7 linked regions of the Homo sapiens genome follow. The protein of the gene in region 1 purifies or fractionates together with the protein of each later gene. This does not show direct contact. Each region holds a gene or a part of one and is shown in the gene's direction. Other genes may lie near its edges. The genes, in order: SYT6, NAA15, SFXN1, CSTF3, CYRIB, NSDHL and LIG1.

Evidence for each region.
Region 2: the proteins of SYT6 (region 1) and NAA15 purify together in Homo sapiens (affinity purification with mass spectrometry; one large-scale study listed by BioGRID and IntAct). This does not show direct contact.
Region 3: the proteins of SYT6 (region 1) and SFXN1 purify together in Homo sapiens (affinity purification with mass spectrometry; one large-scale study listed by BioGRID and IntAct). This does not show direct contact.
Region 4: the proteins of SYT6 (region 1) and CSTF3 purify together in Homo sapiens (affinity purification with mass spectrometry; one large-scale study listed by BioGRID and IntAct). This does not show direct contact.
Region 5: the proteins of SYT6 (region 1) and CYRIB purify together in Homo sapiens (affinity purification with mass spectrometry; one large-scale study listed by BioGRID and IntAct). This does not show direct contact.
Region 6: the proteins of SYT6 (region 1) and NSDHL purify together in Homo sapiens (affinity purification with mass spectrometry; one large-scale study listed by BioGRID and IntAct). This does not show direct contact.
Region 7: the proteins of SYT6 (region 1) and LIG1 purify together in Homo sapiens (affinity purification with mass spectrometry; one large-scale study listed by BioGRID and IntAct). This does not show direct contact.

The regions. Positions count from the first base shown.
Region 1 is NC_000001.11:114,088,448-114,092,393, reverse strand, and holds the end of SYT6 (synaptotagmin-6), read left to right. Parts: intron 1-311; coding exon of another isoform or gene 312-383; 3' UTR 384-3,102; downstream 3,103-3,946.
Region 2 is NC_000004.12:139,307,570-139,311,976, forward strand, and holds part of NAA15 (N-alpha-acetyltransferase 15, NatA auxiliary subunit), read left to right. Parts: intron 1-4,407. UniProt on the Homo sapiens protein: Auxillary subunit of N-terminal acetyltransferase complexes which display alpha (N-terminal) acetyltransferase (NAT) activity. The NAT activity may be important for vascular, hematopoietic and neuronal growth and development.
Region 3 is NC_000005.10:175,477,324-175,481,359, forward strand, and holds the start of SFXN1 (sideroflexin-1), read left to right. Parts: upstream 1-1,236; 5' UTR 1,237-1,316; exon of another isoform or gene 1,317-1,344; intron 1,345-4,036. UniProt on the Homo sapiens protein: Amino acid transporter importing serine, an essential substrate of the mitochondrial branch of the one-carbon pathway, into mitochondria.
Region 4 is NC_000011.10:33,151,024-33,155,430, reverse strand, and holds part of CSTF3 (cleavage stimulation factor subunit 3), read left to right. Parts: intron 1-4,407. UniProt on the Homo sapiens protein: One of the multiple factors required for polyadenylation and 3'-end cleavage of mammalian pre-mRNAs.
Region 5 is NC_000008.11:130,009,725-130,014,131, reverse strand, and holds part of CYRIB (CYFIP-related Rac1 interactor B), read left to right. Parts: intron 1-2,811; exon of another isoform or gene 2,812-3,476; intron 3,477-4,407. UniProt on the Homo sapiens protein: Negatively regulates RAC1 signaling and RAC1-driven cytoskeletal remodeling. Regulates chemotaxis, cell migration and epithelial polarization by controlling the polarity, plasticity, duration and extent of protrusions.
Region 6 is NC_000023.11:152,861,171-152,865,577, forward strand, and holds part of NSDHL (sterol-4-alpha-carboxylate 3-dehydrogenase, decarboxylating), read left to right. Parts: intron 1-1,425; coding exon 1,426-1,554; intron 1,555-4,407. UniProt on the Homo sapiens protein: Catalyzes the NAD(P)(+)-dependent oxidative decarboxylation of the C4 methyl groups of 4-alpha-carboxysterols in post-squalene cholesterol biosynthesis. Also plays a role in the regulation of the endocytic trafficking of EGFR.
Region 7 is NC_000019.10:48,131,855-48,136,261, reverse strand, and holds part of LIG1 (DNA ligase 1), read left to right. Parts: intron 1-136; coding exon 137-228; intron 229-482; coding exon 483-582; intron 583-2,195; coding exon 2,196-2,281; intron 2,282-3,164; coding exon 3,165-3,280; intron 3,281-4,407.

The DNA.
Region 1 (3,946 bases):
TGGCCCAGTCAGAGCACCTCATTCTCACACACACACACACACACACACACACACAGAGAGAGAGAGAGAGAGAGAGAGAGAGTTAAGAAAGCTTTAATTATCTCTGCAGTAGGTCTTTTTGAAAATCAGGTATTCCAAACTAGAAGCTCTAAGCTGTTTCCCTTATGTTTTTGCATGGCTGACAGCAAAATTCAAGAAAGCTTATGAGAAGCTAGGAAAGGTGAATTCAGTGCATTGGGCCAGTTCAGTTTTGCAAGTTGAAATGTAAATTCCTTTAGCAATTAATAAACAGATTGTTCTCCTCTTTGCAGTGGCAGGGCCGAGCTGCTAGCTTCGACAGTGAGAGCTCGTGCCCATCTCCGAAACCACCTCCAACACCATGAGATGTGCAGCCAAATAACACAAATGGGACTCAGCAATGTTCTCTTTGCACTTGTTCAACCGTCTAAACAGTGTTGTGCAGTCGCAGTGGCGGCAGCAGCGGCAGCCGTCCGTCACTCCAGAGTCTTACCTGCTCCTGTGTAGGTCAAAGCTGAGACACTTGTCATGTGGTCAGATCTGTCTTAGTCTTTTGTGTCTCCCAAGGTGATGTTTTTGTGGTTTTTCACTTTTTATGGGTCTGCTGGTAAGAAAAGGGAAAAAAAAAAAGAGTAGGAAAAGACAAAGGGTGGAAAGCCCAGAAGTTGGTTCTAGAAAATACAAGGTACAGTTTTTTGGAAAGAGGTGGATTGAGTTTCTGAAATGCTGCGTCTCCAGCAAGCTCCACAACCCTGGAAAAGGAGGAGGCGTGGTGGGACTGCGGCTGCATTTTCAGTGCCCTGCAGGAATGGGGTGAATCCATGGAAGAGCCTTTGTGAGGTGAATTACTAGTCTTTGAAGCTCTTCGCTGGCAGGACATAAACCACGCTGGGACCCTCAGTCCCGTGTTGAAATCACAAGACCTCTGAGGCGCTTGTGAGCCTTCAGCTGATGTGCAGGGTTCCTCGCTCCCCTTCCTCGCTGGCTTTCCCCATGAATTGAAAACGTCTTGATTCCTCATGGGAACTTAGTCACTTTCTTTAGGAATGATTCAGTTCAGCCGAAACTAAACACGCCATATGTTTTCTGATGCGCCACAGTTAATGATCACATTTGTTTGAAAACAGGATCTTTGTCCTCAGAAATAATCTTGATTGTAAAGTAAGAGAGAAACATATGTTCTGGAATGATTTCTGCATTATACATAGCTTTATAATTCCATGAAGTATCAAGCTGCTGTTTAAAATGCCTAAACAGATTAAAGAAAAACCTAGATTAAATGTTCTTTTCCAAATGGGGAGTTTTGAAATCCAAATAGCAGTTTGAGTCCATCTTTCTATGAAGAGTATGTTTTTGATTGAAACCGAGTCAGCGTAAGCCTATTTCAGCCCCTTTGGCTCTTTGACAATATTCATCTTAAACTTTAGTTCTATAAATTACTAAGTACTTCAGTGTTGTTTGTTTCAGTGGTTGTGAGGGTTTCTTGTTTCCTTTAGATCTTTACCTTAGGCCAAACTCAGTTTAGGAAAAAAAAAATTGTTTGAACTATTCTGTGTTGTAATAGCACATTTCTGTTGAGTTAATAGTGGTCTTCCCACCAACCCCTAAAACCAGGTTGATTTGCTCAATCTCAGTTTGTATAACCCCAGTAAGCGCATGGAGGTGAGTTTCTACTTCGACTTGTGGCGACACAGTGCCAGTTTCCTGAGCTGTGTGTACTACTTGCAAGAGGCAAGTCTGCTGAAGAACCCCTTCTTTTAACAGTGGAAAATCAAGAACAGAAAATCTGTTCACACACCTGTGTCTTATTCTTTATATATGCTACATGGTAGAGGAGCAGCGACCAATAAAGTATCCCTCATTTTAAACCAAGTTGTCAGATTTCTCTGCTGATAGAACGCTGCATAGTATCTTCTAGCCCTAAAAATGACCAGGTTGGGCATGAGTTAACAGGATATTGTGGCAAAAGGAATTTTCTGCTTAGAAAAGTAAATGTAGATAAACCTAAACTCCACCCTGTACTGAGCCTTAGGCTAGGGACTCATGTGTAAAGATGACTTTTCTCCCCAGATATCTTGTCATTGACAGGCCTTCCTAGTCTGGTAGTCCTACATTTGGGTGTTCTCCTGAGAGTGAGAAAAAACCCAAGGTCATGACAAGATTCCTGGCAGGTGACAGACTTCATTATGATTCTGACTCTAGACTGACCCCATCAAGATAGTCGTTTCCGTCAGTGAACAGATGCTGAAGGCCTTGCCATTACAAAGGAGACAACTGAGTTCCCTGGGTCATAAGGAGTCCAGAAATTAGTGTGAGAAGGTCCTTCTGGAAGTGAACTCAAAATTCATGTCCAGCTGTCATCGTTAAACCCTTAGGCAGGTGAGTATAACCCATTCTAACCTCTTGGAGAAGGGAGTGTGATCAATGTGAATCACAATAGTATTGCTCATCTGAGACATTCCTCTTATATCCAAGCAGCTATCTCCCATGAGTGAACATCCCAGTGGTTTCAGAAAATCATGTCCTGAACAGATTCTAGCCAGCCCCACACCACCCTGGCCAACTGCAACCGCTGCTGCTCTAGCAGTCTGGGTCAATTCCTACAGGCTTGGGAGCCCACCCCAGGGAGGCTTTTATCTCCTGCAGCCTCATCCCCAGCACCCTCAAGGTAGACTACTCCTCAGCCTGAATCATGAATGAAACCTGAACATCTGCCAACTTCATTATCTAGCCCAGTATCTCTTCCCTCACAGAGAAGAAGAAAATGAAATACAAAGTTGATCCATTTGTTGGCTTTCTCTGGCCGGAGAAACCTCTCGGGTTGTTGCTGTGAGCTTTGATGAAGTTGTGATAACCAGGGCCATTTGCACATAGGTTTTTTTAAAAAACATGAAAAGTTCCCTTCTCCTTTATTTAGCAGTGTTTCCGGGCTGAAAGACGCCCTCCTCCCCCTCTGCGCTTACCCAGGACGTTAATTAATTGCACTGTCATTTAAAATATTATGTTGTTAATTACTCGTTTGTGTCTTCCCACCCGTGTCACAGCCTGGAGTTTTTATTCAATTAAATCTCTGTCTCTTGCCCATTTCTCTTGTCATTTTATGTTCCTGGGGTTTAGCAGTCAACACACGCACAGGACATCTCAAAGCTTTTCTTCTCAATCTTTGCTTCACATGGATAACCACTTCCCTTCTATCAGAGGTAGAGCAGAACGGCTTGTTTGTTTTTTGTTCTGTCCAAGGAATACCTGTGTACCTCATCAGGCTGGAATCCACCTGTGTTTTGTCAGGCTTGTGGCTCGGAGATCATTTGGCGCACAGGGCTCCGCTGTTCCCTCAGCTGTTCAGCTCAACAAGCAACCCCTGCAGATGCTGAAGCTCCCCTAGGGAAGTGGGCCACACACATCTGGGAAGTACGATGCTGTCACCCACCAGTAGAGAATCCTGCTAACCATCGTAAAACACAATTTGGCAAAGCCATGGGAAAATACTATTGCAGCCTCAACATTTTTTTTTAAAAAAAGAACATTCTAATGTAATAGAATATCTCTCTGCTCGCCTGCAGCTTTTAATTAATTTAGAGAGCAGTCCGTAGAGAGGGGAGTGGAAGGGACCGTCCATTCCTGCACATCTGCATCTGAATGAGGGGTGCTCCACCGTGAGAGGCCCAGTGAGCTGAACTGCTGAGAGCAGCACTCTACTGCCTGAAGAGGCAGCCTCCCCTTGCCAGTGGCTTCCCATCAGGTCACCCAGCAGCCAGCAGGATGTGGCAATGTGCTGGTCACATCTAGAGCTGATAAACCAAAGGGGTCATTGTGTCTGTTAGTATGGGTTGGGCTATGCTGCAATTACAACCTGCAGATTGCAGTAGCTGAAAACCACAAAAGCCTATTTCTCATCCATGATAGGCGCCCATCACAGGTCAGCTAG
Region 2 (4,407 bases), on another chromosome or scaffold:
CCACATGTAATTATTGCACACTTGAAATATGGCTAGTGCAACTGAGGAAATGAATTTTTAATTAATCTTAATTTAAATTCAAATAGTCACATGTGGTGAATGGTTACCGTTTTGGACACAGCATGCTTTATTTAGAGTCCTTTCTTAATTCTCAAAACTTTTCAAGGTGGGGACATTTTTATTAAGCAAACAGACTGAGATTAAGGTCAACAGCTAGTGTTAGTTACAGTCTGGAATAAAACTTTTTTTCTTTTCAGGGCACTTAACATCACACCTGCCTAGTGTTTAACTATTTAGGGGAGGGGTGTAGGAGGAGGGTGAGGGAATTGTTAGGCAAAGGAGTAGTAATACTTATTAGGTGGCTGTATACATTGTATAATAAGTAAATTATTATTATTATTATTATTTTTTTGAGACGGAGTCTCACTGTTGCCCAGGCTGGAGTGTAGTGGTGCAATCTCGGCTCATTGCATGCTCTGCCTCCCGGGTTCACGCCATTCTCCTGCCTCAGCCTCCTGAGTAGCTGAGACTACAGGCACCTGCCACCACACCCAGCTAATTTTTTGTATTTTTAGTAGAGACGGGGTTTCACCGTGTTAGCCAGGATGGTCTCGATCTCCTGACCTCCTGATCTGCCCGCCTTGGCCTCCCTAAGTGCTAGGATTACAGGCATGAACCACCGCGCCCGGCCCATTGTATAATAGGTAAATTATTTTATGTGATTTATTTTCTTTGGGAAAGTTAATGTTTCTGCTAGTTAATGATACTTAGTTTAGCTTCAGTTGCTGATGAAATTTAGATTAGGAATTGTTAGCAAGTAGGTGTCCATATGCACATGAAAGTTTAACTGATTAATTTCTTTGTGACAGAATTCCAGTTTTGCAACTAAGAGTGGACAGTAACTTTGAAATTGGTTTTAATATACTTTTGCTTGTACTTCATATATTTAGAATATAACAAAAAATCAAAAAATGGAAACAAAGTTTGGTCTGTTCTGAAATCCCATTCAGCTCTTAGTAGTTAATCATAAGTTTATTTATTTTTTTGAGATGGAGTCTCACTTTTGTCGTCCAGGCTGGAGTACAGTGGCGTGATCTCAGCTCACTGCACTCTCCGACTCACTGCAACCTCCACCTCCCAGGTTCAAGTGATTCTCCTGCCTCAGCCTCCCCAGTAGCTGGGATTACAGGTGTCCACCACCACACCCAGCTAAGTTTTATATTTTTAGTACAGACAGGGTTTCGCCATGTTGGCGAGGCTGGTCTCAGACTGCTTACCTCGGGTGATCCACCCACCTCAGCCTCTCCCAAGTGCTGGGATTACAGGCGTGAGCCACCGCACCCTGCCGGTAATCGTAAATTTAAACTCGGATAAATTATCCCTTAAAAGTATACCAGAAAACAAAATGCAGTTTTGCTATTTTATATATGTGTATATAATGTGTATATAATTATTATAAAAATTACAAAATGATTTTTCTGTAAAAATCGAGTGAGGGCCGGGCACAGTGGCTCACGCCTGTAATCCCAGCACTTTGGGAGGCTGAGGCGGGTGGATCACCTGAGGTCAGGAGTTAGAGACCAGCCTGGCCAACATGGTGAAACCCCGTCTTTACTAAAAATACGAAACTTAGCTGGGCGTGGTTGCAGGCACCTGTAATCCCAGCTACTTGGGAGGCTGAGGCGGGAGAATTATTTGAACCCAGGAGGTGGAGGTTGCAGTGAGCCGAGATCGCGCCATTGCTCTCCAGCCTGGGGGACAAGAGTGAAACTTCGTCTCAAAAAAAAAAAAAAAAATCTAGTGAGAAGTGAAAATCTTTTAATAATGTGGTAAATTTATTCTTTGCTTGCTTTTTAAGTGTGTGTGTGTGTGTGTGTGTGTGTGTGTGTGTGTGTGTGTGTCCAGGATTTCACTGTGTTGCCCAGGCTAGTCCTGAGCTCAGGTGATCCTCCTGCTTCAGCCTGCCAAGTAGCTGAGATTATGGTACATGCTACTGCGCCTGGCCTGTTTGCTTACTTTTTAATTTTTGTCTTTCTGGAGTGAGATGCAGTATGAATGAACAAATATATGTTTTTGTTTTAAACTGACAGCATATATTTTTAAAATTCTGTATTGTGTTAGAAACCTGAAATGTTTTAAAAAATATTTTTTAAAAATTCTTTTGCGTCAATAGAGTGGGTTAAAAATACTTGTTTGTGCAGAGTGACCACAGTTCAGTTTTCAATAGTAGTAGATGGACAACACTATATTTTCAGAAAAGCAGACTAAAGCTTAAAAGGGAACTGAATTTAATGTTCCATTTTTTAGATGTGTCAAAGTCTTGCAGTCCTGGGTCATTATTGGGGCTCAAACTAGTTATTTGATGATAATAGAATTGCCATCCAAACTATTGGAGCGCTGGTTAATGAACAGTTTCCAGAGGGGCGGGCATGGTGCTCGGTGTGATTGGGGGACTGGAGAGATACTGTCCAGCTGGCCTCAACTGAAGGGATCCCTCTCCTTAGTGTGCAGTCTTATATCTTTTAATATTTCTGCTTCTGACAATGAAGTTCTGACAGAGCATTGATTCAAATATATCTTCTTTCTTCATAAAAACATTTTTGGGCCGGGCGCGGTGGCTCACGCCTGTAATCCCAGCACTTTGGGAGGCCGAGGCGGGCGGATCACGAGGTCAGGAGATCGAGACCATCCTGGCTAAAACGGTGAAACCCTGTCTCTACTAAAAATACAAAAAATTAGCCGGGCGTAGTGGCGGGCGCCTGTAGTCCCAGCTACTTGGGAGGCTGAGGCAGGAGAATGGCGTGAACCCAGGAGGCGGAGCTTGCAGTGAGCCGAGATCCCGCCACTGCACTCCAGCCTGGGCGACAGAGCGAGACTCCGTCTCAAAAAAAAAAAAAAAACATTTTTGGACATAAAAAGCTATGTCGTATAAAGGATCATATGCAAAGGACTGTTCAGAATTTTCTCCCCCAGATACCTGTGTGACTCATTTTTCTTATTTGTTTTAGGACTTCTGCTCAGATGTCCTTTATTTTTAATTTTAAATTTATTTTTATTATTATTTTTTGAGACAGGGTTTTGCTCTGTCACTCAGCCTAGCATGCAGTGGCACAATTTTAGTTTACTTCAGCCTCTGCCTCCTGGGTTCAAGTGATTCTCCTGCCTCAGCTTCCTGAGTAGCTGGGATTCCAGGTGCCTCCTACCACACCTGGCTAATTTTTGTATTTTTAGTACAGGCGGGGTTTCACCATGTTGGCCAGGCTGGTCTTGAACTCCAGGCCTCAGGTGATCCACCTGCCTCGGCCTCCCAAAATGCTGGAATTACAGGTGTGAGCCATTATGCCTGGCCTAATTTAAAAAATTTTGAGACAGAGTCTTACTCTGTTGCCCAGGCTGGAGGGCTGGAGTGCAGTAGTGTGATCTCGGCTCACTGCAACCTCTGTCTCCTGGGTTCAAGCGATTCTCCCACCTTAGTCTTCTGGGTAGCTGGGACTACAGGCACATGCCACCATGCCTGGCTAAACAGGTGTCCTTTAAATGTTATTTAGAGACCTTCCTTGGCTAGCAGTCAGTCCTTCTCACCTTATTTTCTTATTTCTTACTTTATTCTCATTTATCAGCTTCTGACATACATTTACTTTTATGTTTATCACGTTTTCCACAATTAAAATGTAGGGTTTATGAAGATAAGGACGTCTGTTAATGGCTCTATTCACATTGGTTAAAATGATGTACCATAGTAGATGTTTAATAAATATTTGTTATGTGAAGTGAGTGTGAAAATAGTGATTACAGGGCAAGAGAGAAAAAGATCTTTGGATTGTGTGCTTGCATAAATTTTTGGAGAAGGGAGTTAAGCTGGGCTTTGGCATTACAGAGTACATTAGTGTATGAAATAATTGTAGGATATTGGGCAGAGCCTATATTATGGTAAGACTTTGAAGTTTAATTTATAAATGAATTATAGTATTTGTTTATATAGCCTTTCATCACAAAAGCATAATAAGAGGAAAATTTTGTTATTGTTTCTTTGGTTTTGGCATTGGAGGAGAAATGGTATCAGGATTAAATGAGTTTGTTGTGAGGAGCCTGCTGCTGTATTAGAATCTTCAGATAGTAGGGCTCAGCCATACGTCATTTCATAAAGCTTTACAACCGATTCTGACACGAAGTCAGGGTTGATGACCACTATATATGATATTAAGAAATAGACCTGTTATAAAATTTAAAATATAAAATGTTAGAAGAGCTGGGCGCAGGGGTGCATGCCAGTTACTCAGGAGTCTGAGGCAGCAAGATTGGTTGAGCTCAGGAGTTGAAGGCTATAGTTTGTGATTATTGCGCCTGTGAATTGCTACTGCACTCCAGCCTGGGCACCATAGCGAGACTCTATCTCTTTAAAAAAAA
Region 3 (4,036 bases), on another chromosome or scaffold:
AAGAAGGGGCGATCTTTTATATATCTTTTTGAGCCCAGCACTTGGCACAGGGTATGGTACAGAGAAAAAGCTAGTTAAACATTCATAGGAATTTGGAGGATGAGGAATAGCACTCAAAATATCTGTGACATATTGCTTAAGTTTTAGAAGTTTTGTTTTTCACGTTTGGATCATTAATCCACCTGGAGTTGAGTTTCATGTATTATACAAGTAGGGATTTGGCTATCCCAGTACTGTTTAATGAATATCTAACCTTTGTCCCCTGACCTGTGATGCCAACTCACAGCAGGTTTCTACATGTGCAGGTTTCTACATGGATGGCAACTCTATTTGGCTCCGCGAGGCTCTTTGTTGACCCCGGAGCAAACACACCACCTTTGTTATTTACCATTGTTTTATAACAAGTTTTGTATCTGCAGGACAAGTCACTCTGCCTTGCTCTTTTCTTAAAAGCTTGTTTGGCTGTTTCTGGCTCTTTATTTTTTTCATGTACATTTTGCAGTCCGCTTGTGCAGTTATAACACACACTCCACCAAGCACACTAGTGTTGTCGAATTTTTTTTTATTGTCATAGGTCATTTGGGAGAGAATTTACATCTTTAAAAATGGAATCTTCCTATGCAATTTATGATGTAATTCACCATTTATTAGATTTCATTTGCCCTTTAAATATGCCCAGGTTACCCACCTGGTCCAAAATACCATGATTCCTCTCCTGGATAACCACAGCATCTGGCTAAACAGCCTCTCTGCCTCCACATCCCCTCCCACGCAGTCTGTTCTCCATAAAGAAGACAGAGTGCGCCGTTGTTGTTGTTGTTGTTTAAGACATAAATCAGGTCGTGGCACTAAAGTCCTAAAATCGCCTTGTAGCGCCAGTCTTGCCAAGCTCCACACTTTAATTGGGTAAATGACTGCGTGAACGGATGCTGGCTACGCCAAGGCCCTGGGAATAAAGAAATGATAAAGAAGCAGTCCCTTAAGGGAAACCCAAATGGAACATAGTGGCCCCAGCCCGCGCAGAGCCCCACACCACCGTGAGGATGGGCTTGGAGTTCCTCTTGGACCCGGGGCGCGGTCGCTAAGCCAGAAGCGGAGTCGCGGGCGCGGGGCGGGGCCTGGACCCGGGCCTGGACCCGGAGGGCGGGTCCCTGGGCCTCGTAGCTCCCGGGCCCGGACGCGCGCTCACAGGCGCGCGCGAGGACGCGCTCCGGGGACGCGCGAGGACGCCGTGGCGGGAGAAGCGTTTCCGGTGGCGGCGGAGGCTGCACTGAGCGGGACCTGCGAGCAGCGCGGGCGGCAGCCCGGGGGAAGCGGTGAGTCGCGGGCGGCAGGCCCAGCCAGGTGGGTGGGGAAACGCGCAGGGGGCCCGGCGGAGGCGCGCAGGCTTGGGCAGGCTCGGGCCGTGCACCCGCGGGCCGGCTGCGGGGAGACCCCGGGCTCGGAGGTCGGAAGCCCCTTTGCGGGCCGGGGATGCCTCGGGCCGGGGGGGGGGTCCCTGCACCTGGGGATCCCTGGCATCCTGCGGCCGGACAACACCACGCTTCCAGCATCCCGAGGCCCAGCATCCCGTGGGCCTCGTCCCCGGTGGGAAGGGCCCTCCGCCGCGTCCCCGCGCGCCTGGCCGCGCTGTCTTCGGCGCCTGCGTGGCGAACTCGCTCCGGGGACACCAAGATGGCTGCCTCGGGGGCAGCGGCAGCCAGGTGGCCCAGTGCCTGGCCCAGCGCTCCGCGCTCTCGGCTTTGCCTCCTGGTGCTGGGGGTCGGAGGGGAGACCACCTGGTTCCTGCCCTAGAACTCGCAATCCAGTAGGGAGGTGATGTGCAAGGAAGTAGATTCTTGGAGTAGTAGTTGGTCCTACAGGGACCTTGCATTTTCACGCTTTTCTCCTGAACTTTCACGTCTGTCACAGGTCTCTAACCTGCCCAGAATGACAATAAACAGTCTACTAAGTGCGTGCCAGGTGACTTAGGTCCATATACTTTTACACTCTTCCGGCCCTGCGAGGTACTGGGTGTTGGCTCTATAATCCACATGAGAAAACTGGGGCTCTGAGAGGTTGAGTGCCCAAGGTCACACAGCTGGCCATCCATAGTCCAAGGCCATCTGAGTCTCAGTCGTAAATACTGCGTTCTCAAAGACGCTTTTCCTTGGCTATGCTGTCTAAAATTGCACCCCCCATCCCCCCACACACCCTTTGTAACACAAACTCTGGGTTTTTTCTCTTTAGTGTCTTTTGTCACTAGTTGAAATTAAAGGTGTTTACATGTTTTCTTCTCCTCATGTGAACAGGGCCTATTTTGTGTTGCTCAGCCTATCTATCCCCTGCGCATAACAATTGCCTGCACCAAGAAGGCCCTCAATGAGTATTTGTTGACTGCCTGAACGAAAAAGCCTAGCTCTGCTTCACTCCAGAGCCTGGGCACTTAGCTGCTCCGTAGGCAACTCTTTTCTGCGCCCCCATAGCTTTTTCCCTGCACATTTCTCACAGTCCTAGTCCCTCTTCTGCGTTGACTTCTAGATTTTGACTTGGGTGCCTTTGGATTCTCCCTTCTTTGTCCATCCCCCTTTTACTGATCTGCTTCAGTGTTCTAGGCATTGTTATAGGTGCCCAGGGAGGATGCAGGTAAATGAGGAGGCTTTGCAGCTCCTACAGCTTCAGACTTGATATAAAAGATGAGAGGGAACTGTTTGGGAGGATGAATGGGGTGGCTACCAAGAAGTTCTGGGACCTCAAGCAGATCCTTTCTCTCCTCAGCACTGAGCAGGTGTCTCACTTTCAAAAATACAGTGTTTGGGCCAGGCGCGGTGGCTCACGCCTGTAATCCCAGCACTTTGGGTGGCCGAGGCGGGCGGATCACGAGGTCAGGAGATCAAGACCATCCTGGCTAAGCCGGTGAAACCCCGTCTCTACTAAAAATACAAAAAATTAGCTGGGCGTGGTTGCGGGCGCCTGTAGTCCCAGCTACTCGGGAGGCTGAGGCAGGAGAATGGCCTGAACCCGGGAGGCGGAGCTTGCAGTGAGCCGAGATCGCGCCACTGCACTCCAGCCTGGGCGACAGAGCAAGACTCCGTCTTAAAAAAAAAAAAATACAGTGTTTGGCAGGGAGGAGCTATCAGCTCCCATCTCAGCTTAGTACGTATTCAGAGGTTAGATTGAGGCTTTCAGGCCACATGGATGTTCAGAAAAGGGATGATATCTGTGGTTACAGTTGTCAGAGAGGACCCTATATGGCAAAGGGTGTCATAATTCAGGATCAGTGAAGTGTTTAGCTGTTCTTAATTTTCTGTAAAAGTTCTATGAAACCCCATGGGGATGGATACAGAAAGGCACCAACTGGCAGGGAATATCCCTTCCTGCTCCTCACTTCCTGCAGAGAAAGCTGAGAGGACAGCCTGGACAGCAAAGGTGGTAAGAGCAGACCCGTCATCAAACGTTGTTGTTCTGGAAGACTTACGTTGAAGTCAGGCATCTGTATCCTGTTGTGTAGCAGTGGTGAGCTGCATTCAGTTAGAGTAGAACCATGAGTGTGACCAATTTTTCCTTTGTGGTTAAAGGTAAGAAATCAAAAGTAGTGAATCCATTTTTTAAAAAGGGGGGAACAAAGGGCTGTTGTCCAGAAAGTGAAAAGTCATTAAATTAGACCATGTGTCAAACCTGCACTTAATTACACAAAGTTCAAAGTTACTAAGTTTTTCTTTAGCAGCTGTTAATTTGTAAAATAGTTTTATAGACTTTGGTATATGGCATCTCCGAGTTGATTCTTATACATGGATGGTAAAACTTCATCCAAATATGTCTAAAATTCTAGTTTAGTGTTGTTCATTTTTTGCAGGCTGATATCACCATCTCAAATAGAAATCAGAAGATTTTTTTTTAACTGTAATAACATCACCCATCCTAAGATACTGCTTAAGAAATCCATGCCCATAGTTGATCTTGAGGACTGGAATATGAGCAATGGTTGTAATGTTACATCCGTGTTTTTGTTTTTTGTTGTTGTTTGTTTGGTTTTTGAGATGGAGTCTCGCTCTGT
Region 4 (4,407 bases), on another chromosome or scaffold:
TTATTTGAACTAATATGTTAAGCCAAGATCTTTTTTTTTTTTTTAATTTTTTTATTTTTATTTTTTCGAGACAGAGTCTTGCACTTTCGCCCAGGCTGGAGCACAGTGGCGCAATCACGGCTCGCTGCAAGCTCCGCTTCCTGGGTTCACGCTATTCTCCTACCTCAGCCTCCCTAGTAGCGGGGACTATAGGTGCCCGCCACCACGCCCTCACGCCCAGCTAATTTTTTATATTTTTAATAGAGATGGGGTTTCACTGTGTTAGCCAGGATGGTCTTGATCTCCTGACCTCATGATCCGCCCGCCTTGGCCTTCCAAAGCGCTGGGATTACAGGTGTGAGCCACCATGCCCGGCCCAAGATCTTTTTTTTTTTAAGTTTTTGAGTTGTTTGTATGTTTAGATTTTTAATCTATGGATGATTTGGAGGGATTAGTTTTGTATTGTAGGATACATGTTCAGTTTCATTCACAACAAACATGAAGTAGGGTTTGGTTGCATTGGTAAAGGAACACAGAACTAAGCTGACATCTGGTCCTAATATCCGGTCTCATTGTGACACCTGTCACATATAGTTCTTTATTATCTGGGCATATGAATGGAATCAGTTAGGTTACTCCTCTATGAAAGTCTCAGCACGGCACCGTGGCTCACGCCTGTCTGTAATCCCAGCACTTCGGGAGGCTGAGGCTGGCGGATCACTTGGTCAGGAGTTTGAGACCAGCCTGGCTAGTATGGTGAAACTCCGTCTCTACTAAAAATACAAAAATTAGCTGAGTGTGGTGGTGCATACCTGTAATCCCAGCTACTTGGGAGGCTGAGGCAGGATAATCACTTGAACCCGGGAGTCGGAGGTTGCAGTGAGCCAAGGTACAGCCACTGCACTCCAGCCTAGGTGACAGAGTGAGACTTCATCTCAAAAAAAAAAAAAAAAAAAAAAAGAAAGTCTTACGGAGTGCTACTCCGGTCTACTTTTAATTTTGAAAAAAAGTTAACCACAGAGAGAGACTTAAGACTTCAAATATATAGTATATTCAGTTTTCTTAATATTTTAGCAAAAAATTCACTTGGAATGACAGGTTTGTTGCCACCTTATTTTTAATGAAACGTGACATTTGGAAAACATTTGTGGAACAGATAGATGAGGTGGTACATATTTCTTAAAGTGGAGCCCATGGCCCATTTATGTCATAATTAGGTGCGTTATAAAAGTATAGATACGTAGACTCTGATTTCAAACCTAACTGTTCAGTGGGGCTGAGAATCTTCGTTTGAAACAGGTACCACAGTGGTTTTTATGTCAATAAAAGCTTGCAGACCACAGAGTTAGATGATAGCTGGTTGTTTTAAAATATATTCTTGATAAATAAGTGGATGAAAAAATGGCAGATATTTGAGGATGGTATTTTACTGATTTTTCCTGCCCACCTGCTCCCCACCCCCATATATTTAGTTATTACCCTGAATAGCGAGAAATACTCATTATAAAACCAGGGTTGAGGCTCAACTCTGCTTTTTCTGTTGGTCATAGTAAAAAGCTTACATCGTCTTAAATCTTTCAGTCTACCATCTTTCTCCCCCTCTATTCATACTTTTGTGTTATCACTTTAACTGATCCCTACTTTAACTTAATTTCAGTATGGCTCCTAATATAACACCCTTCTAATTTATCATGAAAGTAGCTATTTGGAGAAAGAGAATTATCTTTTTTTTTTTTTTTGTCTGTTTTACCTGCATGGTCGAAATGGAAGAAATTAGATTATTATTATTATTGTTATTATTACTATTTTTTTTAGAGATGAGATCTTGCTCTGTTGCCCAGGCTGCAGTGCATTGGCGTGGTCATAGCTCACCACAGCCTCAACGTCCTGGCCTCAAGGACTCCTCCCACCTCAGCCTCCCAAAGTGCTGAGATTACAGTTGTGACCCACTGTGCCCAGCCTTAAATTATATTATTTCAGTCATTAACATGATAGTGTCTGTCACCTCTTCACATCCCACCTTCCCATTAACAACCTCCTAATAAAAGTTATGAGCTCATATAGAAAGAAAGTGGTTAGGAGTTTCAATAAAGCATAACTCATAGGGCTTTCCAGAGGCTACATCACCTATCCACAATTGTATGTAAAGGCTGTTAAAAATGGTCTTTCCTCCCTTTTCCAACTACGTAACTGTGAGGCTAAAATTTTTTCATATTTTTCATCTAAAACAATATATTGTAACAGATTGAAAGAAGCAGATAATGTCTTCTATTCAGCCAGACATTTAAAAGATCATGAAAATGTAAAATGGTGCCATTCTTTTGACTTTTTTTTTTATTTTGGAAAATTTCCTTCAGTAAAATATTTATATTCATATTTAAGGAATTTATTATTTTTAAGTGAATTAAATACTTTAATTTTTTGTTTTAATTTCTTATGTGAGTAATGATAGAATCCCTCTGGGCTCCTCAATTATTATTGTTATTTTTTTTTTTGGAGGCGGAGTCTCACTCTTGCTCAGGCTGGAGTGCAGTGGTGCGATCCCAGCTCACTGCAACCTCCACCTCCCGGGTTCAAGCGATTCTCCTGCCTCACCTTCCCAAGTAGCTAGGACTACAGGCATGTGCCCACACCCAGCTAATTTTTTGTATTTTTAGTAGAGACAGGGTTTCACCAAATTGGCCAGGCTGGTCTCGAACTCCTGACCTTGTGATCCGCCCACCTCGGCCTCCCAAAGTGCTGAGATTACAGGCGTGAGTCACCGCGCCCGGCCCAAGCTCCTCAGTTTTTAAGAATGTGAAGCAATCCTTTACAAAATGTTTGAGAATAGTTGGAATAGTACATCATGTCTGTGAAGCCAAGATTGTAAGTTCTATTTCTCTGAGTTAGTTAGCTTCACATAACAGACGGTTAAACATGGAAAGTGGCAAGGCATCCCACAGAATAGGATACAGTTTTTGTAAATCATGTCTGATAAGGGATTTGTAACTCCAACATGTAAAAATTCATTAATGAAAAAACCCAGCCAGGTGCGGTGGTGCACGCCTGTAGTCCCAGCTATTTGGGAGGCTGAGGCAGGAGGATTGATCGAACCCAGGAGTTCAAGTCCAACCTGAGCAACATAGCAAAACTATACCTCTAAAAAGTAATAATAATACGTCCAGTTTTTATTTTATTTATTTCTATTTTTTCAAGACATAGTCTCGCTCTGTCGCCCAGGCTGGAGTGCAGCGGCACAATCTTGGCTCAGTGGAACCTCTGCCCCTCCCCGCCGGCTCAAGGGATCCTCCCACCTTAGCCTCCTGAGTAGGTGGGATTACAGGTGCCTGTCACCATGCCTGGCTAATTTTTTGTATTTTTAGTAGAGACAAGGTTTCACCATGTTGGCCAGGCTGGTCTCAAACTCCTGATAAGTCCAGTTTTTAAATGGGCAAAATATTTGAACAGACATTTCTCCAAAGAAGATGTACAAATGGCCAATAAGAAAATGAAAAGACGCTCTACTTTGATAGCCATCAGAGAAATGTAAATCAAAACCACAATGAGATATCACTTCAGACCCACAAGGATGGCTGTAATAAAAAAGATAATATCAAATGTTGGTAAGGATATGGAGAAATTAGAACCCCTTATACTGGAAATGTAAAATAGTACAGCCCCTTTAAAGTCTGGTAGTTTTTCAGAAGGTAAAACATAAGAGTTACCACATTACTTAGCCATTCCATTTCTAGGTATATATCCAAGAAAAAGGAAAACACACAAAATGAACTCCACAAAGAAATCTTACACACTAATGTTCATAGTAACATTATTCATAATAGCCAAAACTGGAAACAATCCAAAGTCCATCGGCTGATACATAAACAAATGTAGGATATGCACATAATGGAATATTGTCAAAAGTAAAGTACTTAGTATATGCAAAAACATGAACTTTGAAAACACGCTAACTGAAAGCCAAAACAACGCCAGTCATGGTGGCTCACGGTGGTAATCCCAACACTTTGAGAGGCCGAGGCAGGTGGATTGCTTGAGCCCAGGAGTTCAAGACCAGCCTGGACAATATGGCAAAACCCCATCTCTATAAATTATAAAATTTAGCTGGGCATGGTGGCACATGCCTGTAGTCCATTATCGGGAGGTCTAGGTGGGAGGATTGATTGAGCCCAGGAGGTTGAGGCTGCAGTGGGCCATGATTGTGCCACTGCATTCGAGCCTGGGTGACAGAGTGAGATCCTGTCTCAAAGAAAAAAGAAAACTAGAAACAAAAAGAACACATATTGTATGATTACATTAAATATGGGCACATCCCTAGAGACAAAATAGATTAGTAGTTGCCCAGGGCTTAGGGATTGGAGGGAAATGGGAGTGACTGCTAACAGGTACAGATTTCTCTTTGGGGTGATAAAATGTTTTAAATGTGTGATG
Region 5 (4,407 bases), on another chromosome or scaffold:
TGGAGTGGCCAGGGTTACCTGTAAAGGAGAGCTAGGGTTCTCGTTTTCCTGAGACTTAGAGAGAGTGCAGGACTTGGCCCAAGACCTTCAGTCAGGAAGGGGCAGATTGAGGGTCCTTGCCTAAGTCTTCAGCCTGCAGAGCTCACTTTTCTTCTTGCAGACGCTGAGTGGTCTTTGTGCTTCCTCTGGCACCTGACCTGCTGCCTGGCCCATGCAGGAAACAGTACGTGTCTTTTGACAGAATGGGCAGAAGAATGATGGGTTCCCCTTTGCTCTTTGAGGATGTACATTCTTTTTCCATCTCAAGGTCAGCGCACTGGCCTGCAGTTGACCTTGAAATGGTTGTCCCGTGGTTCCTCCCTATGTGGAATCCTGGTCCCTGACAGCTCTTATATCAGGATCCAGAGACCCATGCACACGAAGAACAGGAAGGACGCCCGAGGGACGCGGGTGCCAGGAGGTTGTGGCCTCACCCGTGCTCAGCATTACTGCCATCTCGTTAATTGAAGAGACCACGATTCATGTGGCTTTGGCGGTCTGGGACTTGGCTGTCTTCAGCAAAATCGTCCACCACTGAGCATTGTAAAGGAAGTGTTGTATAGCTGAAAATTCAGATTTTAAGTATGAATTTTATCAGACACACCTTCACTATCTCTTGGCTGTGCAGCCTTCTAGAGGTCACTACACTCTCGGCCCCCTCTTTTCCTCATCTCTAAACAGGCAAAAGAATCCCCGTTGGTCTCCCAGGGCTCCTGAGTAAGAGAGTAAGATCCAAATTCATGCCTTGGTTTTCTTTCTCACTGCTCGTGTGCATGGAACCAAGTTTGTTGCCTTCTTGGAGCCTCAGTGTTCTCATCTGTAAAATGGGCGCATGTGTCACGGGGATGTGTTGCTCCTGGCAGTAGCATAAGCAAAGTCCTTAGCATAGGCCCCTGTTCCCATTGCACACCCCGTATAATAGTGATCACCATCCATGATTATTGTTATCATCATCAACAACAGTAATAATCACTGTTTGCTCAGCAAGCGTATAGGCGTCTCAAAGGCCAGATTCATCTCTCTGTTTTAGCTTGAATTGGAGCTTCTTGAAAGAAGGAAATTCGGGTGGGAGGAGTGAAGGATTGATTTTTTTTCTCTTCCCTAAAGGGGATACTTGATAAAGGCCTGTTGAAGACGGACGCCTTGTAATCTTGTTTTTCATCCTTCTCTGGGCTCTCAGATGGATCAGGTCCTTTTGCTTCAGTAGAACTTTGGCAATTAAGTCTTTGATAGTCTTAAAATGGGTGATTGGCCTCACCAGGCTGAAAGAAAGGCAACTTTGTTAGCCTAGGATGCATGAGGTTGAGAGCAATATTTTTTTTTTCCTCTCCTCCTTTTCTCTTTCTAGAGGCAGTGAAGGTTTTGGGGCCCTACAGCCTGGGTTCACATCCTGGCTCTGCCACTCACTAGCTCTGTGCCCTTGGCCAAGATACTTCCTTTCTCTTTGTCTTTCTCTTCATCTTTCAAATGAGGACTAACAGTCGCCACCTGGAAGTGTTGCTGTGACGATCAACCCAGAGGTTGTATGGAAAGTGCCCAGCAGAGAGCATGGCACCTAGAGGTGCTCAGCAATGTCTGTTTCTTCCCTCAGCCCCTGGTGCTCTTTCTGTCCCTCCCCTGGTCCCATCATCTGTCCCTGCATCCAATGTCTTACCCTCCCCTGACAGAGCTTCAGTTTCCTTTGGGAATAGAGCCCTTGGCTGGCAGGTCATTCCTGGATTAAACTTGGAGCCTCCAAGCTTTATGAAGTCCAAGTGTGCTATTTTAAACCAATTGTGGACTTTTGTGTGGCGCTTCCGCTGAATGGAAAGATAATTGTACCAGAGCTTGTCGAGAAGAGTACATGGACGAGTCATGGAGCTTACATTCTGTCCCATTGATTTTTTTTTTCCTTCTTTTGGAGGACTTACTAGCTGCCATCTGCTCCTTGAACATCGTGTTCATAAATATATAAATAATCGAAGTTGATGAGGAGGTTTGCTTAAAGAAGTGTTGCTGAGAGTGATTTTTATAAATATTTAAGATAATCTGAAATCATTAAAGGAATTGCGGGGTTTATTAAAAAACTGAAGACGTGTTTTGGAAAGGATCCTTTTCTTTACAAGCTGAATAAATGTCAAGAGTAGAGAAATGAGGGAAGAGAGCTTTCTGAACGTGGACATGGGATCCGTGTGGGTGAGTGGGCAGCCAGTCTGTCTGACTCTGCCAGGCCTCAGCGTTCTTTTTTTTTTTAATTATTTTTATTTTTATTTTTAGTTTTGAGATGGAGTCTCGCTCTGTCGCCCAGGCTGGAGTGCAGTGGTGCGATCTCGGCTCACTGCAAGCTCCGCCTCCCGGATTCATGCCATTCTTCTGCCTCAGCCTCCCGAGTAGCTGGGACTACAGGCACCCGCCACCATGCCTGGCTAATTTCTTTCTTTCTTTTTTTTTTGTATTTTTAGTAGAGATGGGGTTTTACCGTGTTTGCTAGGATGGTCTCAATCTGCTGACCTTGTGATCCGCCCGCCTCGGCCTCCCAACGTGCTGGGATTACAGGCGTGAGCCACCATGCCCAGCCTAATTTTTATTTTTTGAGATGGAGTCTTGCTTTGTTGCCCAGGTTAGAGTGCAATGGCATGATCTCAGCTCACCGCAACCTCTGCCTCCCGGGTTCAAGCGATTCTCCTGCCCCAGCCTCCCGAGTAGCTGGGATTACAGGCGCGTACCACCACACCAGGCTAATTTTTGTATTTTTAGTAGAGACAGGGTTTCCCCATATTGGCCAGGCCGGTCTCGAACTCCTGACCTCAGGTGATCTACCCACCTCAGCCTCCCAATGTGCTGGGATTACAGGCATGAGCCATTACGCCTGGCCGCCTCAGCGTTCTTGAAAGCTTCCTGGGCTTCCTTGAGGGTCGGAGAGGGCCACTGAGTAATGTGTGCCAGGAGTCCCCCCGGGGAGCACACATTTCAGATTCTGCTTGTGAGAGTCAGTGGCGGGCTTCTAGAAGGTTCCTAAGGCAGATCTCTTTTGGTTAATGATGGGCTATGTTTTAGTGAGACCTGCTAAGGCCATAGTTCCGGAGGCTTCTAGGTGGTAGAAGCAAGGGAGGGAGGAGTTGGAAGAGAACTTTCCAAACTTGAGTGTGCTGCGCATCACGTGGGGATTGCCTCGGAGGTTCTGAGCAGGGGCTGGGGCAGGGTGAGATGCTGCATTTTGAACACTTTTGCACATGATGCGATGCCTCTGGATTGTAGACCATACTTTGAGTGCAGTGGGCCAGGAGATCATCCAACCTGACCCTCTCCCCTTCATTCATTCAGGAGCCAGGCTGATGCTGATGGTGCAAATCTCTACATGACCCTGGAGGTTTCCAAGTTAGCTTAGAGGAGGAGGCATGCATGCGAAAACACACATATGACAAAGTGACAAAGGCCTAGGATGGACCTCAGGACAGGTGACAGTGGGAGCAGGAAGGGGTGGGAGAGAGACCACCTCTGTCTGCCAGCAGGTGCTGAATAAGCCCAGGAGGGCCTAGATGCTGTGAGCCATTGAGATGGGGCTGCCTTCAGGGAGCGGGGGAGGAGAGGCAGTGTGAGCTGAAGGACTGAGCAGAAACCCCATACTCAGAGTTTCAGGCCTAAGCATCCAGTACTCTAATTTTAACACACAAGGGAACTGGGACCTCCTGGGGGGAAGCATCTTGACCAAGAGGCACAGTCAGGACTGGAACCTAGGCCTCTGGCTCCTGAGCCTGGTTTTTGCTCACCGCTCCACAGTGCCACCCTCTGCATCCACTGCTGTGTTTAGCAGTAAGGCTGTGAGAGCAGGAGGATGCTGAGGACTTTCTCTAGTTCAAAATGTACCTCTGCCCTTGACCTTCGTTCATCAGGGGACTAGGCACTTAAATCCACAGTGAAAAAGAAGGCCCAATGTGGGAAAAGTGACAGCTTTGAAATCAACATAAACCATGCCAGAGACTAATCCTCTTTCTGTCTTTTCCCCCTCCCAGCACCAGCATCCTTTGATAAGAAGGTGGGGGAAGGACAGTGAGGGCCCCGTTGTGCAGAGGAGTTAAGGATGGGAAAGGCTTGGGCGGTAGGAGGAAGAAAAGCTCCATTCTTTCCTCATCTGCCTAATAGAGTCTCCTGTCACTGGCTCTGTCTGGCCGCTTTAAGCTCTTTGGAATTTACATCCAGTGCTCACTCAACAAAGCCTATTGCATGGCAGGGCTGATGGAGCCCTGGGCCTGCTTCTCAGCGCTGCATGACCTTGGGCAAATCACATCCCACTGCAGAACCAGAATTGTCATTGATGAAGCTGGGCTACTATCACCTGCTTCCCTGGAATGTTTGGAGGATTGAGTGGGATAATGTGTATCAAAGCAT
Region 6 (4,407 bases), on another chromosome or scaffold:
GTTGCTTTCCACATTTCAGTCTTTAATCCACCAGGAATTTATGTTTGCTTATGGTGTGAGATAGAGATCTAACTTTCTTCCATGTGTATAACCAGTTCAGTGCCATTTATTGCATAATCCATCCTTTCTGCATCGCTGCACACCATCTGCAGCATGTCTTAGGTGTTTGTGTCTTACATGGGCCTGTTCCCAGGCTCTCCCCTCTGCCCCATTGACCTCCCTGTCTGCCCATGCAGAGAAGCTCTGCCTTTTTAGGATAAGTCTCAGTGTACCGTAGATAAATCACGCCCCCAACCAATTTCTTCAAACTTCACTTGGCTATTCTGAGCCCTTTGTTCTTCTACATATGTTTGGCTTAACCAGTTCCTTGCTAAAGCCAGCTGAGACTGCTGTTGTAATTGTGTTGAACTTGTAGGTAATTTTGGAGAGAATTGACATCTTTCCCATATTGAGTGTTCCTGTCCATAAATATGGGATATGTTTCTGTTTATCTCGCTCTTTAATGTCATCAATAGAGTTTTATACTTTACTTCGTAAAGATTTTGCATATCTCGTTAAATTTATTTGTATGTACTTCGTTTTTTGTTATTTAATAACTTTCTATTACATTTTCAGTTATTGCTAATATATAAGACGAGTTAATTTTTGTATATTGATTTTTAATTCAGCAACTTTGCCAAACGCTAATATTTTCTACATATTTGCCTGTGTTTTCTGTGTAGATTTTTCTCTCATCTGTAAGCGATGGAAGTTCAGTTTCTTTTCAAATCATTATAAATTCGTGTTTATCTTACCCTACCACTCTGGCTAGAGCTTCTCATACAATGTTGAATAAGAATGGGAACGATATGATTCATGCTAATGGTGTTCAGTGTTGGATGAGCTTCTCTTAACCAGCAGGCTGGACGCTGGGGACCCTCATAAGAGAATATCTTCCTTTAGAATAGCATTTCTTAAGAGGTCGTGTGGTGTGTGTATTCCTATGTGTGTTCACATGGCCAGGTCACTATCAGAATAGCCAGTGATCTTTTTCAGACATCTTCCTAGAAGTTTGCGGGCTGCCCTTCACTTACAACAGAGAATCGCTGTCATAGTGAGATACCATGAATGCAAGTCTATTCTATCTCTCAGGTGTGATGGGATAGAAAAAATGTGTTATCCCTTGTTTTGAAACCAAGATCTCTTGATTCTTGGTTAGAATGTAATACATAGTGTGTCTGGAATCCACATAGCTGCAAAAGATGGTGATCTTTGGATTATTTTAAGAAGGCATGAAAAGCAAAGGCATTGCAGCAAATAATTTCTTCAGTGCCTCGAATGCGAGGGCAACAAAGGGATGCCCCTGATTCTCTTTCATACAGGATCATGCACTGTTTGAATTGTGATAATTTGTGACTTTTATTTTTTCTGACCTTCCTCTGTCAGAAACTCATTTTAACCAGCAGTGCCAGTGTCATCTTTGAGGGCGTCGATATCAAGAATGGAACTGAAGACCTTCCCTATGCCATGAAACCCATTGACTACTACACAGAGACTAAGATCTTACAGGAGAGGGTATGTACCTTGGAACTGGTTGAGTGAGCAGACTGAAGGGTTTAGAATCCTAAGAAAAATGTTTATGAACTTATGAAGTTTGTATTCTGAGGCCTACGTACCTGATTTGAGATGTAAAATTTGTGGGTGAAATTAAATTTAAAAATACTGTGAGAGGCCGGGCACGGTGGCTCACGCTTATAATCCCAGCACTTTGGGAGGCCGAGGTGGGTGGATCACCTGAGGTCAGGAGTTCGAGACCAGCCTGGCCAACATGGCGAAACCCCATCTCTACTAAAAATACAAAAATTAGCCCAGCATGGTGGCAGGCGCCTGTAATCCTAGCCACTTGGGAGGCTGAGGTATGAGAATTGCTTGAACCTGGGAGGCGGAGGTTGCAGTGAGCCGAGATTGTGCCATTGCACTCCAGCCTGGGGGATAGAGAGAGAGAGACGCTGTCTCCCAAAAAAAAAAAAGTTACTATGAGAACAGCTTTATGTGGCCAGACACTGTTCTGAGTGTTTTCCAGGAGTATTTTCCTTGTTTAAAGGTCACAATTATCGCATCATCACCAGATTATAGATGAAGACTGTGGTGCACAGATGCACAGAGAGGCTCAGAACCTTTCTAAAACTGTGCAGCTAGGAGGTGGCTGACCCCAGGCAGTCTGTCTACAGAGCTTACAGCCCACCCTCAATGCCATGGGAGCTTCCTCGCCTGCTATGGGAATTTACAGCAGTTGCAAGCGTGCAGACAGGAATCAGGCTGGAGGCACCTTCCTAGTGGCACTCTCACCCCCTCCCTTACTTAGAAAAACAAACAACGGAAGGATCTTGCTTTATTTTAAGGAAAAAGTACTTTTCCACTTGGCAAAACAGCTTCATCAAAGGGCACCTGATTTTAGTATGGTTGGATTCAGCCACGGTCGCTACCAAGCCTTCAGGCTGCTGGGGCTGTGGGGCCCCTGACAACTGCTAGCTGCAGATGGGGATTGTCACCCTGAGGCCATCCTAAGCTGCAGGCCAGGAGTGCTCCTGAGCCTGGGATAGCTCGTCTTAGCTGGGTAGCTGTGAGTATACCCCTCCCAGGTGTGTGCAGTGTATCACACCCACTGAGGTTTTCTCGCAAAGCCGGTACATGCTGTACTGGAGCTGAACACTGACCTGGCTACCTGAGAGCCAGCTGCCTCCTGGCTGTTTGCCGTATTTTTTTTTTTTTTCTTTTTTGAGATGGATTCTCACTCTGTTGCCCAGGCTGGAGTGCAGTGGCACGATCTCGGCTCACTGCAACCTCCACCTCCCAGGTTCAAGCGATTCTCCTGCCTCAGCCTCCTGAGTAGCTGGGATTACAGGCGCGTGCCACCATGCCCGGCTAATTTTTGTATTTTTAGTAGAGACGGGGTTTCACCGTGTTGGTCGGATGGTCTCGAACTCCTGACCTCATGATCTGCCCGCCTTGGCCTCTCAAAGTGCTGGGATTACAGGCGTGAGCCACCATGCCCAGCCTGTCTGCTGTTGCTTCAGCTCAGAAAGTCCTGGCAGAACTGGTCCACAGGGAGACACAAGGGCCACCCAGACCAGGGGTGGAGGCTTGAACTTTGGCAAGCCACAGTCCTGGCTCCAGACTATGCTGTCTTGCTCCTTGGAGCACTCATGTGCTCGAACTTGGCCCAAGGAGTACTAAAGCCTCCCTGCGCCTTGCAGGCAGTTCAGTCACCATGGAGACCCTGTGTATTCTCAACCCAATATGCCTGATACTGATTGCCACCAGAGCTGAGCCCATCTAGGCTCAGGAGCTTCAAATGATGGCCTTGGCCCAGACCATCAGTGTCTCGCTTATATCAACTTTTGGGTTCTCAACTGGAAATAAGCAAAGCCTGCAGATGACTCCAGCAGTAACTCACCGGAAGCCTCCTTTCAGCCGAGGTTGACATCCACTGTTGGCTTTATAACCTTCCTACTGATCATAAACCAAATGTGATGGGGAGCTAGGACTCCTTCACCTCTCTTCCCTTTAGTAGTAGAGATGAGCCTTGGTGGAAGCCATTTGAGGGTTTATTTAGTCATTTCCTCCATCGCTGTGGGGACCAGAGTCCTGGCGGGAAGAGGAGGGCCAGCTCTGGGAATCTGTTGAGAGGCAGCTTTTCCATTGTTGAGTTGCTTAAGATCACTGGGGCCAAAACATAGACCAGCACTTTGCTACCATAGAGTAGAAGAAACCCGAGGTGACATGACAGCAGGAACCGTACTTACCAAGCATACAGACACGCACTGAAGCAACTCACATGGGCCATCTCGTGTAATTCGCATGCAGCCCCGTCAGGGTAGGTACCTTTATGATCACCACTTTTACCCACGATAAAACAAATCCTTTGGAAAGTTTTGTTACTTTTGAGGCGAAACCCATTTCACTGTGCTTTAGACTCTTGAGTTCTAGTTTGTCCATGAAGTCACACAGAAGTCACCCTTTCCTTGCGGTGGCAACAGGAGCACTGGCTCTGGACCAGGCACTGCTCTGAGGACTTTACATGTCTCGGCCTCCTTTGCCCCCCAGCTGCTGGCCTGTTTCTCCCCAGGCATGGTCTTCAGACCCTTCACCTTCTCTGACCCTCTTCTGGGCCCACTTGGGTTTCTCAGAGCCCTCCCCTCGGAGGTGATACTCAGAATTGCCTGGAACAGACCCGGCCTGGTGGAAACGTGGGCGGCACATGCAGTTCAAGTCACTGGAGGCTCACGGCTAACTTGTTTGCCAGAACCTTTGGACGTTTTCCACAAACTGCTGCCGAGGCATGTCTTCTGGCAGTGTTGGTGGATTTTAGCCTTTGAACGCAAACCAGGGCCTTCTGATTTGATCTTACCAGTTTTTGCCCAGCTG
Region 7 (4,407 bases), on another chromosome or scaffold:
CTTCCAGGCTCTGAAGATTCTTCTGGTTTTTGAGGAGAGGGTCTACATACATCAAGGTCGAGGAGATCAGAGAAGGGAGGAGGCAAGATTGGGGAGGTGCAGACAAGCCCCCTTCCCTGGCCTGCTCTCTCCCCAGGTCCCTGAGCGGACGGCTGCGCCTTGGGCTGGCAGAGCAGTCGGTGCTGGCTGCCCTCTCCCAGGCAGTGAGCCTCACGCCCCCGGGCCAAGGTGAGCTCCTGTGGCCCGTCTCTGCATCCCTCGCTGGAGTTACCTCAGGCTTCCCCCCTCCTCTTCAGAGGCCCATGCCCGCCCCTTCCCCAGCGGGCCCCTGCCATACCAGGCTCCTCTCTCCTGGGTGGGGGGGAGGGGGCGTCTTGGGCCGCGGCATCTGCATTCCTTGCCATACAGCAAACCACCCACTGCACCCTGGTGTAGCCAAGGATGTGGGTGCCTTCCAAAGCCTCTGGTGGGTCTTTTCTTAGAATTCCCACCAGCCATGGTGGATGCTGGGAAGGGCAAGACAGCAGAGGCCAGAAAGACGTGGCTGGAGGAGCAAGGCATGATCCTGAAGCAGACGTTCTGGTGAGAGCTGGGCAGTGGGTGGAGTTGCCAGGGGCTGTGGGCAGAGTGCCAGGGTGGGGGTGGAGCCAGAGGAGCAGTGGGTGGGGCCAGTGAAGTGACGGACAGGCATCACGAGTGCCGGTCACGGGGTGACTGAGAGCAGAGGTGGTGATCTAGACAAGGCTGGTGCTTGACACAAGGATGGTGACAAAGATCAGGAAGGTGGCAAACAGTGAAGGGTCAGTGACCCCAGGAGAGGTATAGAAAGACGCTGGCAGCGGCCAGGCACAGTGGCTCACGCCTGTAATCCCAGCACTTGGGAGCCTGAAGCAGGCAGATCACTTGAGGTCAGGAGTTTGAGACCAGCCTGGCCAACATGGTGAAACCCTGTCTCTACTAAAAATACAAAAATTAGCCTGTAATCCCAGCTACTTGGGAAACTGAGGCACAAGAATCATTTGAACCCAGGAGTTGGAGGCTGCAGTGAGCTGAGATCACGCCACTGCGTTCCAGCCTGGGCAACAGAGTGAGACTGTCTTAAAAAAAAGAAAGACGCTGACAGCAAGGGAGGGCAGCCGGCAACATGAGGTTTCTGAGTGCCAGACAGGGCTGTGCATGCAGAAAGGCCTTAAGGGACCCAGAGAGGAGCAGGTGACTGACACATGGTGAAGGGTCTTGACAGTCATGGAGAGGACATCCGTGGAGCGGCCACGAGGGCTCCAGAGAGAGCCATGTGGAGGGACCTAGGCCAGCAGCTGACCCAGGGCTGGTGACTCCAAGATCATGACTGCCCCAGAGAGGATGTCAGAGGCAGGAGGGCCGATGGCAGTTCCACAGATGGCCTCAGAGCACCTGCTCTGGGCCAGGGCCCCCCACTGGGTGCTGAGCAGAGAGTGGTGAACAGGCCCGGGCAGCAAGCTCAACTCTGCCTGCACGTGGGGCTCTATCAGCTGCTGACCTCAGGCCTACCCCACACCAGCTACATCAAAATCTTTGTAGGTGGAACCTAGCCTTGAAAACCTTTGTCTATTTTTATTTTGTTTGAGACGGAGTCTCGCCCTGTCATCCAGGCTGGAGTGCAGCAGCACAATCTCAGCTCACTGCAACTTCCGCCTCCAGGGTTCAAGTGATTCTCCTGCCTCAGTCTCCTGAGTAGCTGGGACTACAGGCGCGTGCCACCACCCCCAGCTAACTTTTATATTTTTAGTAAAGATGGGATTTCACCATGTTGGCTAGGCTGGTCTTGAACTCCTGGGCTCAAGTGATGCACCCACCTCGGCCTCCCAAAGTGCTGGGATTACATGCCTGTAGGCATGAGCCACCATGCCCGGCCAAAAACCTTTTTTTAAAAACTGTATTCTTGAGTGGTCTCCTGTGTAGCCGAGTAGAGAATCGCTGGTCTCGTGGTGACAGATAGGGAACAGGGGCAAGGCCAGACTAAGGGAGACAAAGCAACAGATAGTGACACGAAGGGAGAGCACAGAGACAGGGTGGCAAGAGGAGCTTGGCAGGTGGTGACTCAGTGGGCAGAGGCATCCAGGAGCCCAGGCTTCTGGGAGCAGGCCGAGCTCTCTTTCCAAACTGTGTGAGTTCTAGAAAGGCTTCCCCTATCTTGTTCTCACCCGCCACCCCAGCGAGGTTCCCGACCTGGACCGAATTATCCCCGTGCTGCTGGAGCACGGCCTGGAACGTCTCCCGGAGCACTGCAAGCTGAGCCCAGGTACAGGCCCCAGGGGCGCTCACCAGCCTGGCAGCAGCCCTGCTCCCTCCTGAGTCGGCGTGAGGGTGGCCATCGTAGGCGCCCCTCTCAGAACTTGCAGAGTCCTCTCCCCCACCAAAACCAAATGCTCCTCCCTGGTGCTGAAACCCACTGCTTTTCTCCTTGGAATTTCCCCTTGTGGAGTAGATAGGGTGTAGGTGACACTGCTGTGATAAACAGGAGCCGGGCGTGGTGGCGTGTGCCTGTGATCCCAGCTACTCGGGAGGCTGAGGTGGGAGGATCGCTTGAGCCCAGGAGTTCAAGGCTGCAGTGAGCCGTCATCGCGCTACTGCACTCCAGCTGGGCGACAGAGTGAGACAATAAATAAGTAAATAAAAATGGGCCAGAAGGCAGTGGGTCAGGCCAGATAGAATTTCTTTCTGTCACACAGAAGTGTCCAGAGCAAGGGAGGTGGCCAGGGAAGGTACAGGTGTGCAGCTGTGTCCCAGGGATGACCCGGGGACCCAGGTTCCTGTGTCCCTCTGCCCTCCAAAGGTTGTCACCCCAATGTCTGTGATCAAATGTGGCTCACTTCCCTGTTCTAATTGTGGGAGGAGGGACGCAGAGGAGGGAGGGGAGGCAACCAGATTCCTTGCAAGGATGTGAGCCAGACATTGCACATGCTGCGTGGGTTCCAATCACATGGCCTTTCCCACCTGGAAGGAAGGCCGGGGGCTGTAGTCCCCAGTGGGAGGCTAGGTCCCCTTCTAAAACGTGGGAGGCTTCGTGACTGAATAGCAAGAAAGCAGAATGGTCCTGGGGCCCATTAGCAGTTCTCCTCTCCATGTTCCCCCTCTAATCCATTGCCTTCCCTCTCCTCTAACTCACTCTCCTCCTTTCCCAGGGATTCCCCTGAAACCAATGTTGGCCCATCCCACCCGGGGCATCAGCGAGGTCCTGAAACGCTTTGAGGAGGCAGCTTTCACCTGCGAATACAAATATGACGGGCAGAGGGCACAGGTATGGGGAGTGGGACATGTCCCTTCCACAGACAGGAAAACGTCAAAGAGCAGGGGTGTGGGGTCACTGAGGCCTGAGCTTCAAGCCGGCCTGCGCCACAGACTGCCGAGCCCTCGCTCATCTCTCTGGGCTTCAGCATCCACCTCCATGCAGTGAGTGTGTTCTTTTTTTTTTTTTTTTTTTTTTTTTTTGAGACAGAGTCTCACTCTGTCATCCAGGCTGGAGTGCATTGGCATGATCTTGGCTCACTGTAACCTCCACCTCCTGGCTTCAAGTGATTCTCCTGCCTCAGCCTCCCAAGTAGCTGGGACTACAGGCGCCCGCTACCGTGCCCGGCTAATTTTTTGTATTTTTAGTAGAGACGAGGTTTCACCATGTTGGCCAAGATGGTCTCGATCTCTTGACCTCATGATCCACCCACCTCAGCCTCCCAAAGTGCTGGGATTACAGGCATGAACCATCGTGCCTGGCCTCTAGGGTGTGGTCTTAACTACCTCACCAGCTTATCCGAAGCTACAATCCTCCAGAGTCCTGACCGATGATAGTGGGAGCTCATGAAACGTGGGCTCCGCTGATGCTGCTGGTGGGTGTGTTCATTTTAACAGCCGTTCTGGGAGGTGCCTACATGACCCCTTCATGCCGTGACGTGCATGTGTGTCCTGTGATCCAGGGCCTCAGGCGTCCTTGGTCCTGGGGTCTGTAAGAATGTGTTGTGTCTCTTCTGTCCTGGCAAGTGTGGGGCCTTCTCACCTGGGGATAGGTAAGCAGGCAAAGTGGGTGGGAGCCACAGGGCTCGGGGCAGTTACAGGAAGTGGACCCCTGAGGAGACCAGCCTGGCCAACATGGTGAAACCCCATCTCTACTAAAACCACAAAAATGAGCCAGTGTGGTGGCGTGTGCCTGTAGTCCCAGCTACTCGGGAGGCTGAGGCAGGAGAATTGCTTGAACCCAGGAGGCAGAGGGTGCAGTGAGCCAAGATCGTGCCACTACACTACAGCCTCCACGATAAGAGTGAGACTCCATCTTTTAAAAAAAAAAAAAAAAAAAGGGTGGATCCAACAGACACAGGATCAGAGATGGATCTCCAAAATAGTGTTGAGAAAAAAGACACAAGATGATTTACGATA